2 separate regions of the Homo sapiens genome follow, and region 1 is linked to region 2. Evidence: fine-mapped expression QTL. Tissue or cell type: whole blood. Region 2 holds a variant in brackets; the other region holds the start of a gene. All regions are shown on one strand. Distances are from middle to middle.

Region 1 (5,000 bases), 44 kb after region 2:
CTCCAGCTTTTTTTTTTTTTTTTTCTTGAGATGAAGTCTCGCTCTGTAACCCAGGCTAGAGTGCAGTGGTGCGATCTTGGCTCACTACAACCTCCACCTACTGGGCTCAAGCGATTCTCTTATCTCAGCCTCCCAAGTAGCTGGGATTACAGGCATGCACCACCCCACCCAGCTAATTTTTGTATTTTTAGTAAAGACAGGGTTTCACCATGTTGGCCAGGCTGGTCTCAAACTTCTGATCTCAAGTGATCCGGCTGCCTCAGCCTCCCAAACTGCTGGGGTTACACCCAGCCCCACCTCCAGTTTTTAAGGAGAGCTGTGCACATTGATCATCCACACCGACGACTTCACCTGAAGCGTCCACACCTGACACACCCCTGCAGAACCCACATTTTCTCCCTGTAATTCTGGTATCAGGAACTGGAGCCCTAGTATTAGGAAGTCGTATTGGGACGTCAGTGGAAGGCAGAAACCATCAGTCCATTTTGCAGCCTTCTAAGGCCACTCCAACGTGTCCCAGCAGCCTGGAGAATAACAAATTCAAGGGTCTACTTTGATTAACAGATTACAACCAAGTTAGTAGAGAATAAACAAGGTTTGCCCAGAGATAAGGGAGGGGAGACATAAAGTTATTGCCTGTAATCCCAGCACTTTGGGAGACCGAGGTGGGTGGATCACCTGAGGTCAGGAGTTCGAGACCAGCCTGGCCAACATGGCAGAACCCCATCTCTTCTAAAAATATAAAAATTAGCCCGGTGTGGTGGCGCATGTCTATGGTCCCAGCTACTCAGGAGGCTAAGGTGGGAGAATCGCTTGAACCTGGGAGGCGGAAGTTACAGAGATTGCGCCACTGCACTCTAGCCTGGCGACACAGCGAGACTCCGTCTCAGAAAAATAAATACATAAATAAAGTTATCACCTGAAAAAAAAATGTGAGAAGGGAAAAAAATAAAAAGGACTTTCATTTACTTGGCCCTCACTGATTAAGTTTGGCCAACTCTCCTGTTCAGGTGCTGTAATTCAAAGATGAAAAGAAGCTGCGCCCAGTCCGGACGCCAGGCCTTGTGTCCCCACCTAAGAAATCTGCACGGCAGGGATTAACCAGGGGAGAAGGGCCTGGCCGCTGGGCCTTGGCTTCCTCTTAGGCAGAGTTCCAGCCCCTGAGACTTGAGCCGACCGGCCTGAGACGACTCCGGCCGCCGCCACCCTATGCTGGCAAACAGGCCTCTCCCCAGCAGGCTCCAGGGGCAGCCACCTGCGCTCTCCCTGCCCTCCCCTACCCCACTCTCCTAGAGGAAGGATGAAGAACAGCTCCCCCTCCTTACTCTCAGGCACCCACAGATTTCTGAGCTGCCGTCACCACTGACGAGAACCCAGGTCCCCTGGAGGGATCGCTTCTCCTTCTGATTCCATCCTCCCCATCAATGAACACGCAGGAACACCCACGCTCCCGCTCCTCCTACTCCAGGGGGAGACCGAACCCGAGAGCGACATCCGGAGCTGGAAGCCGCTGCAACGGGGGCGCCGGCCTCCCTGCCCCGCAGTCTCCCGCCCTTTCCCAGACACCGGAGGATCCCAGACCAGCCCAGTATTCCAGACGGAGAGGGTGCCCGAGTCCTCCGCAGGGCCCCGCCTCCCTAGGCGCTCGGCGCTGGAGACCTAGGGGAGCGCGCGAGAGAAACGCTGAGCTCCACCCGGCTGGGGCGGAGGCTGAGCACTATACCCGGGACTCGAACCCCGCGCCCTCGTCCCCCAGCTTTAGGCATCCCACGGCGAGCCCTGGCCCAACGCCCCCGCGCCGCGTCTTCCCCCGCACCCCCGCCCGGAGCCGAGTCCCGGGTTGCCAGCGCGCCCATCCCGCCCCCAACAGGTCTCGGGCAGCGGGGAGCGCGCTGCCTGTCCCGCAGGCGCTGGGAGGCGAGCCGGAGCGAAGCCGAGGGCCGGCCGCGCGCGCGGGAGGGGTCGCCGAGGGCTGCGAGCCCGGCCACTTACGCGCGGGCTCTGGGGAACCCCATGGAGAGGAGCACGTCCAGCGCCGATCCATGCTTGATGGTGCCGGGGCGCTGTTGGCGGTTCCTCCGGGGGGTGACTTTGCTGTACAGCTCCTCTCTCGCAGCCATGCCGAGCGGACTGGGGTGGCCGTACTGAGCCATGGCTCAGCGGCCAGCCATCGCCAGGGAAGGAGCCCGAGCCGGATGGTTCGGGAAGGAGGAGGGAGTCGGGCTGGGCCAGGGGAGGGGGCTCGGGGACCCAGAGCCAGGCAGGAGGCGGCGGCAGCGGAGGCGGCGCTCCGAGCTTCCCCAGTGTCGGGACTCTGACGCTTCCTGGTGAGGCCACAGGAGCCAGAACGCCGGCAAGCGGCCGCTGCGGGACCAGCCTCAGCCACTCGGGCCCCCGGCTGCCCCCAGCTCTGCGCCTGCAGTAGCCCTGTCTCCTCCGCCCCCTTCCCTCTCCTCGCCTAGCAGTCCGGGAATTTGCAATGAGTAATTTTTGAATGGATCAAAAAGGAAAAGGAGCCTTGTGGGCTGGCCCTGACTTGCCTGTACCCGGGCCCCGCCCCTCTCTTAAAGCGGCCGCGCTGTCCGAGGCTGCTCCGTGCGGGCAAGAGCTGTAGTCGCGCTACTTGGAGACGGAGGATCCCAACCTTATGGGCTGCTTGTGTGCTTCACCTCCCGAGAGTCACCCCCGGCGCCCCAGCCCTCTCCTTGGCTGGCATACCCGCCCAGCTGGGCCTCAAGACAGGAGATCAACCCATCTCAAGTTTCATGTGATTCTAGATGCGGTTATTAATGGAAATTGGGTGAACTGGTGGATGATACTAATGGACCAGAAGGCCAAGCCGTAAGGCCTAGGTAAAAGGTTTTGCTTCTCAAAGATCCTGCAAAACCCAAAGGGTTGTTAGGACCATCGGAAGTTGAGTTCCCAATCAGCCGGCCAAGTGGCTGCACTAAAGACCTACTGCGCTCTACAAGGTTATGGTCAGTGACTGAATAGTGCCTTCCCGGTGGGGCAGAGGGGTTGGGGAGAAGGACCTCAGGTTCTCAGAGGTGGCAGGACCTGGGAGGGGACAAGAAAAGAGGGACAGGGCAGAAAGAAGAGGGAAGGGAAAAAGAAAGGAGGAAGGAGGAGGAGAAGAAGGAAGGGCTAGGAGGGTAGAGGAAGAAGGAACAGAGAAAACATACTTCCTAATTATAAGAGGTGTTCAAAAGGGAACGGGCTTATTTCATTAGGGAGTGGATATCCTGTCAATAAAAGGATTCAAAGACGGACCGAATCACCACTGCACAATAATAAGTGAATTGTATCATAGGCTGGACAAAACTACTCCCACTGCAAAGATGGTGGAAGCCACAACCATATTGATGCCCCATGCCCCACCTGGTGAATTTGGCTGGGGGATGCTAACCCTCTTTCGTTTGGAAACAAAGTCATTGTCTTCAGTCAGGGACAAGGGTCCCACTTGCTATAATGAAAGAGGCAATGAGTACACCCTAACTGATAGTCTTTTTTGGGTAATAATAATAATAAAACCTAACATTTATTGGGCTCTTGTATGTGCCAGTCATTGTGCTAATCGTAATGAATGAACTCACTGAAGTTTTATACTGACCCTAGGAGTGTGTTTAATCATTATCCCAGTTTTACAGATGAGAAAACTCAGCTCAGAGAGGTTGGGGAAGATCATAGAGCTGGTAAGTGCGTAGCTACAGCACTCGTATCCACTGCGGTGCCTTAGACAAGTTACTTCTCTCTACAGCCTAATTTCCTCATTGGTATGGACCGTGGTAACCTAACCTTGCACACACTGGGTTTTCCAGAAATGTCAGTCCGGGCCTGTCCCTGGTTGGAATATGGGGGAGGGATGGTGACCAGCACCCATGGAGTGGCTTTTTGAGGTTGCTTTATAAGGCCTGTGAAGGTTTTACCAGGGGAAATGATACAGTGTAACTCCCTGAGCCCGGAATTGGTTTCCTAAAGAATAGCCAGTGGTGTTTGGAAGCAGGGAGATAAGACAGCTGGAGCTTAAGCAACAATGTGTATTAATTCTGCCTCCTGCTGTACAAAGGATGAGGGAAAATTAATGCTTCCTGGGTAGTAGCTGCTTCCAGAGCAAAGGGGATATCCTGGAGACCTTGCAGAATGCTCTTCCAGGACATGGAGCAAAAAGACAAGACTGGGCTGGCAACACCATACCTAGTATTAGCCTCCTTGGATGTGTTCGGTAAAACATGCTGGATTTTATCCAGTATTCTGAATTGTTTCCAAATGCCTGGGCTGAAAGTCAAATGATCTGGATCTTAGTCAAGAGATAATAATGTATGTGAAAGCGCTTTGTAAACCATAAAGCGCTACATAAATGATAACTCAAATTTATTGAGTACTTACTATATGCTGGTGTTGTTCTTTGCTTCTTACATATGTGACTCAAACAATTCCTTGACAAGACTATGAACTAGGAACTACTTTACAAATGAAGGTGCTGAGCCAGAGGTCAAGTATCTTGTCCAAGGTCACATGGCTAGTAAATGGCAGAGCCAAGATTTGAACTCTTAACATTTGGCCAAACAACTAGTTAACGACCATTGTTATGATGATAAAAGGACACCAGCCTTTAAGATAGTTTTTTGACTCCATCTATGCCCCTTGACATAGAATTGCTGGATCTCTGTTTCTCCAGAAAAATTGAATTAATTGTCTTTCTCCCTGCCTTTAGGCAAACTGTAAGATAAAGGAAATGATGCATATAAAAATAGTTTTAGGTAGACTGGAAAAAGCACTATGAAAAACTAGGCACCTGAGATGCAAACTGTTTTTGTCTGGGACACTTTTACAGAAATCCCAGCTTGGCTTCCTCACTTGTCTTCAGCTCAGTGCAAACCCCTGTTTTATTTAGGACTCCTGCCATTTGTTCTGCACTGGGTTGGGGGGCTGGCAATTCAGATGCATTGTGCTTTAATTGTGTTGACGTTGAAAAGCTAGGAAAAGCTTCATAAATGTCT
Region 2 (8,750 bases):
CTTATTCACAATGTCTAAAAGTTTCTATTTCAGACATGATCTAAACTTCTTTTTGAAATCAATAAACTGCCCCAGTTTCTAAACCTAATCTATGACTTGCAGGCATTTTCCCCCATATTTCCAAGGGAATAAGCATCATTTGACACTATTTATTTTGAAAAGCGGTGGTGGAGGGGAGAAACAATATATTTCTTTCTTTTTTTTTTTTGAGACGGAGGCCTGCTCTGTTGCCCAGGCTGGAGTGCAGTGGCACAATCTCGGCCCACTGCAACCTCCGCCTCCTGGGTTCAAGCGATTCTCCTGCCTCAGCCTCCCGAGTAGCTGGGACTACAGGCACCCACCACCACGCCTGGCTAATTTTTTGTATTTTTAGTAGAGACGGGGTTTCACTGTGTTAGCCAGGATGCTCTCAATCTCCCGACCTCGTGATCCGCCCACCTCAGCCTCCCAAAGTGCTGGGATTTACAGGCATGAGCCACCGTGCCCGGCCAAAGAAAAAAATATTTCAAAGAAGTGGCATGTCCACCACCAACCCTGTTCAGTAAACATCTACTAAGTACCTGCTGTGGGCGAGGCTTGGGGGAAAGAGGAAAGAGGACATTTCAAAAGGAATCAGATACAGCACTGATCTTGAGGGAGTGTCCAATTTGTTTATAGAATGAGTGAATAAATGAGAAAACAAATGATGAGTGAATGCAGAATCAGGATTAGTAGTAAGTTTTATAGCAATTCCACTCCTTCATTTAATGATGTTAGTATAATTCAAAGATGAGTGAGGAGAATATAAATTTTTCCTGAGTTAAAAATCTGGCCAGGCACGGTGGCTCACGCCTGTAATCCCCAGCACTTTGGGAGGCCGAGGCGGGTGGATCACCTGACGTCAGGAGTTAGAGACCAGCCTGGCTGACATGGTGAAACCCTGTCTCTACTAAAAATACAAAAATTTGCCGGGTGTGGTAGCATGCGCCTGTAATCTCAGCTACTCGAGAGGCTGAAGCAGGAGAATCGCTTGAACTCGGGAGGCAAAGGTTGCAGTAAGCTGAGATCGCACCATTGCACTCCAGCCTCGGCGACAAGAGCAAAATTCCATCTGAAAAAAAAAAAAACCTGGTGATTTTTTTTCCTACTGCTTACTGTTTTATCTGTTCCCCAAAACTCCAAACACGTTTCTTGCAACCTAGGGTTCTCTGAAATCTCCAATCTGACCTTGAACGATGAAGGCAAGGGATCTCCGTGCTTGGTAGGGGTAGGGTCCTATATTATACTTTATGTGATGATATTCTCTGGCCTCCTTTAAGTACTTTAAAAAGATCTTTATTTTAGACTCTTCTCTCTCCATGCTGATGTCATTAGTATTCTGGATGAAATGTTTCCTTGCACGTAACTATGTTGGACTTGGATTCATTACTAAAGCAAATAATTCGGTTTTCCTAGGAACAAATGCTACTTTTCCTCATGGGCTGTTTGCTGACCATCCCTCTTGGTTGAGCATACGCTGCATTACTTGGAAGCCACATGTTAGGACTAAGGGAGACATAGAGAAGTAAAGAACACAGCATCTGTCCTCAAAGAAACGGTCGTCTTCACTGGGAGGGAAGATTGAAATGTGGCATTACAGCTGGGCGTGGTGGTTCACACTTGTAATCCCAGCATTTTGGGAGGCCGAGGCAGGAGGATCACGTGAGCCCAGGAGTTTGAGGCTGCGGTGAGCATGATCATGCCACTACATGCCAGCCTGGGTGACAGAGCAAGACACAGTTTCTTGGAAACAAACAAACAAACAAACATGGCAGTACGAGGGCTCAGAAGGGAAGATGCTAATATATTCACTCAGAGTTCAGAAAAGGCAGATGGTTTGCTTTGGGCAAAAGTTGTCAGGAGAGGTTTTCAGACCAAAGCAAGGACATCTTGAGGGGAGAGTCAAAAGGAAAGAATTAATCCTATTTTCAGCTCTCTATCCCTGAATACTCTTAGTTCCTTCAAGCAGCAGTGGGCTAACAAGTGATGCTACAGGACCGTATGCCAATGCAAGCGAGGACCCTGTGACCTTCAACAGACCTCTGCGTCACCATGGAGCTTTGAGATGAGTGTCAGAAGGAAGAACAAGCTCATTTTGAAAAGTACACAGACGTTGGAAACTGTGAGTATTACCCAAAAAAAAGCTTGAAAGGCTCCCATCCCCATCGGGTGACCAGCAGAACTTGCCACTGCAAGAGCCTCGTTCTCATTAATAAGAGTTCATTTTATTATTTCCATGCTATGTAATTTCTCCCACTGCCTTTTAGACTGGAACATTCAACTTTTTGCACTTCATATTAATTACCCTGGGGGATTCAGGCTACAGTGCACAATAAGAAGACCCAATTAGAACATTGCCTACTGTCTTTTTGTTTCTTTGTAATCCAAAATCAATCAATAACATCCTTAAATCCTCACAAGAAATGACTAGAGTTATTAACGTCTTGGACAAAGAAGCCAAGAAATTCAAAGCAGATGGAGCAGAATCACACAAATCACACAACCATGCAAATTAGTAGCAGCCCGTGGGCTTGACAGGGTCAGAATGCTGGGGGTTGGGAATTTTTAATATGAAACAGAAAATATACCCCATAACACTAATGTTCTTTTTGTGATGAGACGTGATGATTCTGGTTTAATGTGGAGCAGGGTGTCTTCAGGAGCTCTGAGAAAACACAGGCTTCCCAGTGCTCATCTACATAGCACATCCCTGTCTGGGACAGTTTACTGTTCACCCTACATGAAGTGTTCTCTCACCTGTCAGAAACACACTTCCTCTACAAATTGCATCCCCTACTGTTAACATCAAGATCAGAAGTAGGCCAGGTGCTTTGGCTCATGCCTATATTCCCAGCGCTTTGGGAGGCCGAGGAGGGTGGATCACCTGAGGCCAGGAGTTCAAGACCAGCTTGACCAACATGGTGAAACCCCATCTCTACTAAAAATACAAAATTTAGCTGGGTGTGGTGGTGAGCACCTGTAATCCCAGCTACTGGGGAGGCTGAGGCAGGAGAATTGTTTGAACCCGGGAGGTGGAGGTTGCAGTGAGCCGATATCATGCCACTGCACTTCAGACTAGGTGACAGAGCGAGACTCCATCTCAAAAAAAAAAAAAAAAAGATCAGAAGTAAACTATGAGAGTGAGTAAGATGAACATATGAACATTTACATTGAAAAATGTGAAAAAAACTTAAGATGTAATGGTGTTTGGAAAAGAATTGTTAACTGTATCCACTAAACCATAAAGCTTAACAAAATCCCAAACTTGGGAAATGAATTTTAAAAATGGACTCACCATGTGTAACTCTGGTCAGAGCCTAAACAAAGGAGGAGACAAAGCTTATGATGTCAGCCCATCTCATTCAGCACTGGGGACTTTGTGCTAGTTCAAAGTGTTGAGGAATTGGATCTCTACCTAATCATAAGAGACTGACCTCTTCCTCACTCCAACAGCGGTGCTGCTCCCGGGGGAATGATGGTTACCTCAGTTTCTCTTGGCCTCTCAGATGTGCAGCATGTCGGGTCTCCGCTAGTACCCACACATGATACCTCATGCTGCAAACCTACCCACTGAATACGGCCAAGTGAATAAAGCACCACCAACAACACGACCTCTAGTTCCACTGCTGGGCTCTGGGTACCATTGTCAATTCCTTGATCGATTTCCAAAGCTAAACAATAATATTTACGTAAACCTTAATAGATTACAAGACATTGAAATATCAGTCATCTGGGCTGGGCATGGTGACTCATGCCTGTAATCCCAGCACTTTGGGAGGCCGAGGCAGGTAGATTACTTGAGCTCAGGAGTTCAAGACCAGCCAGAGCAACATGGCGAAACCATGTCTCTACAAAAAAATACAAAAATTATCTGGCTGTCATGGCATTTGCCTCTAGTCCTAGCTACTCAGGAGGCTGAGGTGGGAGGATCGCTTGAGCCCTGGAGGCGGAGGTTGCAGTAACCAGAGATTGCACCACTGCACTACAGCCTGGTGGCAGAGGGAGACCTTGTTTCAAAAAAAAAAGAAAGGAAAGAAAGAAAAGAAAGAAAGAAAGAAAGAAAGAAAGAAAGAAAGAAAGAAAGAGAAAGAAAGAAAGAGAAAGAAAGAAAGAAAGATTTAAAAAGAAAAATCAGTCATCTGATGTGTTTCTCACAATAATTTTGGAAGGTGGATAATATTATCCACAGGCATTTCACAGAAGAAGAGATAGCATAGAGGTTGCAGGAAATGCCAAGAACACATAGCAGCTTCCTAAGATTCAAACTCAATTCGGTGACTCCACGTGCCACACTCCTCTGAGTTGTGAGTTCTCTAAGATGAAGATCACATTTTTCCATCTGTAAGACACTGAGTGTTGCCATGAGGATTAAATAAAATAACCTAGGTACAGCAGGCACCTAATAGATACCAGTTCCCTCCCATGCCCCTCCTCCATCAGGGGCGAAAAGATTTAAAAATAATCCCAATCCGGGCGCAGTGGCTCACGCCTGGAATCCCAGCACTTCGGGAGGCCAAGGCAGGTGGATCACCTGAGGTCAGGAGTTCGAGACCAGCCTGGCCAACATGGAGAAACCCCGTCTCTACTAAAAATACGAAAATTAGCTGGGTGTGGTGCTGGGCACCTGCAGCCCCAGCTATTCAGGGGGCTGAGGCACGATAATCGCTTGAACTGGGAGGTGGATGTTGCAGCGAGCCGAGATCGCAACATTGCACTCCAGCATGGGCTACAAGAGCAAAACTCCATCTCAAATAAATAAATAAATAAAATCCCAGTATATGGTCTGCACACACTACACATTTATAACCACAACTTCAGATTAAAGTGAACATTAATGACCGTACTGAAGCAAATAGATTTCCAGAGGCATGGGGAGTGCTGGGTGTCGGGTGGATGGAATGTGGGGGCTGTGGGATCATTGGGAGTTAGGGAACTAGCTTTAGGTTCTGACCATTGTAGCAACTCAGTGAGCCTCCACACACGGCACCCAGGATGCTCCCACACCTGGTTTCTAGTATCCTCACAGCTGGCACCTGCCTTACCAAACATATGCCCCAGGCTCTCCCATACTGTGAGTG[C/T]AGTTTTCATTACATAATGCATCCATCTTCTTGCTCTTCTTTAGCCTTATACCATCCTAATTTTCTATAGTTCCAAAGCCATTCTCTCCTGCCTTGTTGCAAGGTGGGGAGAAAATGTAAAATTCAAATGGTCACATAGTGTTACTTGGGAACAACTTTTGCCAGAGCCTAGATGAGGGGCATGGAAGATTTTGGAAGGTGGGGAGCAACAGAAGATAGAAATCCATGCCTGGTGTGAATTGCAACAAAAATTTGGCGTGACTATGGGGGTATGGGTAGGGGGAGAGGAGGTCATCTGCAATGTTGACAACTTTTCATCTAATACGACAGAGGAGAATTCCAACTCTAAGAGAAGAGATCTGCCAGGTATACTGGCAAGAACACTGAGACTACGTGGCTGAGCCCAGCTCTGCCCTTAATTTGCCAGAGCAGTCATTCCACCACCCTGGTTTCCTCACTGAGAGAATGTGCGGGTTGGACAGGGCTGGCTTTGGAATGAGACAAATCTAGGTTCAAATGCAGGCTCCATCACTGACTCGTTATGCAACTTTCGGCAAGTTTCCTTACATCGCCACGCCCCAGTGCTCTTAACTGTCAGATGAAAATGAGAGAATGTGTTTCCGGAGGCTGTTTGAGAATTAAATGAGGAGGTATATAAATATACTCCCCCTTGGACAGTGTCAGGTCTATGAAGCTCCCAGCACAGCAGCTGCTTCCTCTTTTCTTTATTCTAAGTTGCTGTAAACCCATGTATCTATGGTGCAACGCAATGACTCAATCCTTGCTTATTTAATGTGGCTATCCTGCCCAACCTAAGTCCTGACTATCAAGGTACTGAGGTGCTGTATGCTGAAGCAGCAAATAAACAATTCACATTGGACAAGAAGATGGAAACAAGTGTGAGGGAGGATGGTGGAGGAAAAAGGATCCAGAAGTGGGAGGCAGTGGATCTGGGTTCGAATTCTAGCGCCCTCAGTCACTAGAAATCTCTGGAACTCTATTTGCTTCAGTACGGTCATTAATGTTCACTTTAATCTGAAGTTGTGGGTATAAATGTGTAGTGTGTGCAGACCATATACTGGGATTTTATTTATTTATTTATTTGAGACGTAGTTTTGCTCTTGTAGCCCATGCTGGAGTGCAATGTTGCGATCTCGGCTCACTGCAACCTCCACCTCCCAGTTCAAGCGATTATCATGCCTCAGCCCCCTGAATAGCTGGGATTTCTGAGCTTCAGTTTTCTCTTCTGTAATAAAGGGAATAATCACATATGTAAAAGTACTTTGTCGATTGGAAAGCGCAATTGAAATGTTAGTGGTCTGTTATGCCACCATTCCCGTTGTTTGGAGAGTCCAATTACTTGAGTTTGAAAAATGTTTTGAGAGCTATCTAATTCCTCTTAGCAGTCAAACAAAACTTCAAACTTCCCCCCCAAACCCTAATCTTCAAAATCAAATGGCTGCTATGTAGATTACTGATGTATCCCCAAAAGAGCTGGGCTGACTTTTCTTTGCTATGAACAAACACCGCCAGTGACCCACTGGAGTCACCAACTCCTGGTGGCCTGATCTTTACTTGAAAAACAATACGGTAAACCACCCTCCTATTTTAACAGCTAGCACAGGGCAGGGCGGGAGGAACCCCCACCCACGCTTGCTCTGAACAGAAATCGTGCTGCAGCTGATGTGAAAACAAGATAAGGAGAAATGTCTGTCAACAGACTCCGGCCTGCCCTAGAACTGGGGTGCTCTCCGTGTATTCTGTACAGATGGGAAGGCAGGGGCCATTAGCCACCTGCAATTCTGCTCTGATGTGGCTGCGGTACTAAACACGGCCCAGGAAAGGGTGGGCATAGCTCGGACACACGTGCAACTTACACATTCTAGTCTTTAGCTAAAGTCTTTGAAAATACAGATTTAGAAATGTAGTATTGGTTGGGTGCAGTGGCTCACTCCTGTAATCCTGGCACTTTAGGAGTACCAGGTGGATCACCAGAGGTCAGGCATTTGAGACCAGCCTAGCCAACATGGTGAAACCCTGTCTCGACTAAAAATGCAAAAATTAGCTGGGCATGGTGGCAGGTGCCTATAATCCAAGCTACTCAGGAGGCTGAGGCAGGAGAATCGCTTGAACCCGGGAGGCAGAGGTTGCACTCCAGCCTGGGTGACAGAACGAGTCTTCATCTCAAAAACAAAAAGAAAAAAGAAAAAGAAACGTAGGGCCCTGAAGAAATCCTCATTAAGGTTAAAATCCTGCCGGCTTATTACCGAGAAATTAAAAACTATTTGGGGCCGGGCGCAGTAGCTCATGCCTGTAATCCCAGCGCTTTGGGAGGCCAAGGTGGGCAAACCACCTGAGGTCAGGAGTTCAAGACCAGTCTGGCCAACATGGTGAAACCCCGTCTCTACTAAAAATACAAAAATTATCCAGGCATGGTGGTGGGCACCTATAATCCCAGCTACTCAGGTGGCTGAGGCAGGAGATTCGCTTAAACCTGGGAGACGGAAGCTACAGTGAGCAGCGATCGCACCACTACACTCCAGCCTGGGCAACAGAATGAGACTCTGTCTCAAAAAATAAAAATAAAATAAAAAATAAAAAAACTATTTGGTTATCAGGCTGAGTGGAAACATAAGCTCAATGTGACTATTTAGTAACTTCCCAACAGTTCTAAACTACCACCCGTAGCTCTAAATGAAAACTTCATTTTTTAACCACTTTGGGCATGGCTGGGATGTAGGAATCAATGTGTTGATGCAAAAATGCTGCAAGGCAGTTCTTTTCTCTGTCTTTCCTGAGCATCATTAGACCTCCAGGGAGTGAGGCACTGTGTAACTGAAGGTCCAAACAACATATCCAAGGCACTAAGAGGATCACAATGCATAAAACACGATGTGCATAAATGCTGATGGATAACGGGGAAAAAGTAAAAAAGAAAAGAAAAAAAAGGAAAGAAAACCACAGAGTCTCCTAAGAGCTGCTGAAATGGCGACAGCATCAGACACTTATTAGCATTCACCACTCAAGGAGATATTCCCAGAAGGGGTTGAAGCGTTATCAAGGTTGGGAGGACTCAGCATGTTTGCAGAGGAGGAGCCGGATGCATATGCTCACCAGCCTGCTGGCACGAGTACTGGAAACTCCCACCCATCCGCAGGCTCTGATCAGATCATGCCAGAGCTTCAAGCTCCTTCCAGGCATCCATGCAACTGAGTGATGACAGGAGTGGATAGAAGAAATAAATGCAAGGTTTTGAATTTTAAAGCAGACCAGTGGGCCGGGCGCGGTGGCTCACGCCTGCAATCCCAGCACTTTGGGAGGCCAAGACGGGTGGATCACTTGAGGTCGGGAGTTCAAGACCAGCCTGGCCAACATGGTGAAACCCCGTGTCTAAGAAAAATGCAAAAATTAGCCGGGCATGGTAGCAGGTGCCTGTAATCCCAGCTACTAGGGAGGCTGAGACAGGAGAATCGCTTGAACCCGGGAGGCAGAGGTGGTGGTGAGCTGAAATCGTGCCACTGCACTCCAGCCTGGGGGAAAGAGGGAGACTCCACCTCAAAAAAAAAAAAAAAAAAAAAAAAAAAGAAAGAAAAGAAAAGAAAAATAAATAAAATAAAATAAAAATAAAGCACATCACTGGTGGATGGCATACCC

What was found. PIP is the estimated chance that this variant, and not a neighbour inherited with it, causes the effect.
Region 1: it holds the start of UBASH3B, and the variant in region 2 is fine-mapped to the expression of UBASH3B in whole blood (INTERVAL, PIP above 0.99). The same link has a PIP of 0.9 or more in neutrophils.

Annotation. Positions count from the first base shown.
Region 1 is chr11:122,653,203-122,658,202 of GRCh38, reverse strand. UBASH3B (ubiquitin associated and SH3 domain containing B) reads right to left here and starts at 2,481. Exons shown (of 14, transcript NM_032873.5): 1 at 1,993-2,481. The coding sequence starts at 2,153. RefSeq lists a silencer at 1,822-1,871 and an enhancer at 2,075-2,576.
Region 2 is chr11:122,694,885-122,703,634 of GRCh38, reverse strand. The region is part of intron 1 of UBASH3B (ubiquitin associated and SH3 domain containing B); the gene reads right to left. Among named protein-coding and RNA genes, the nearest start is that of UBASH3B, 44 kb to the right of the region's middle. The variant C/T (reference allele first, on the strand shown) is at 5,097.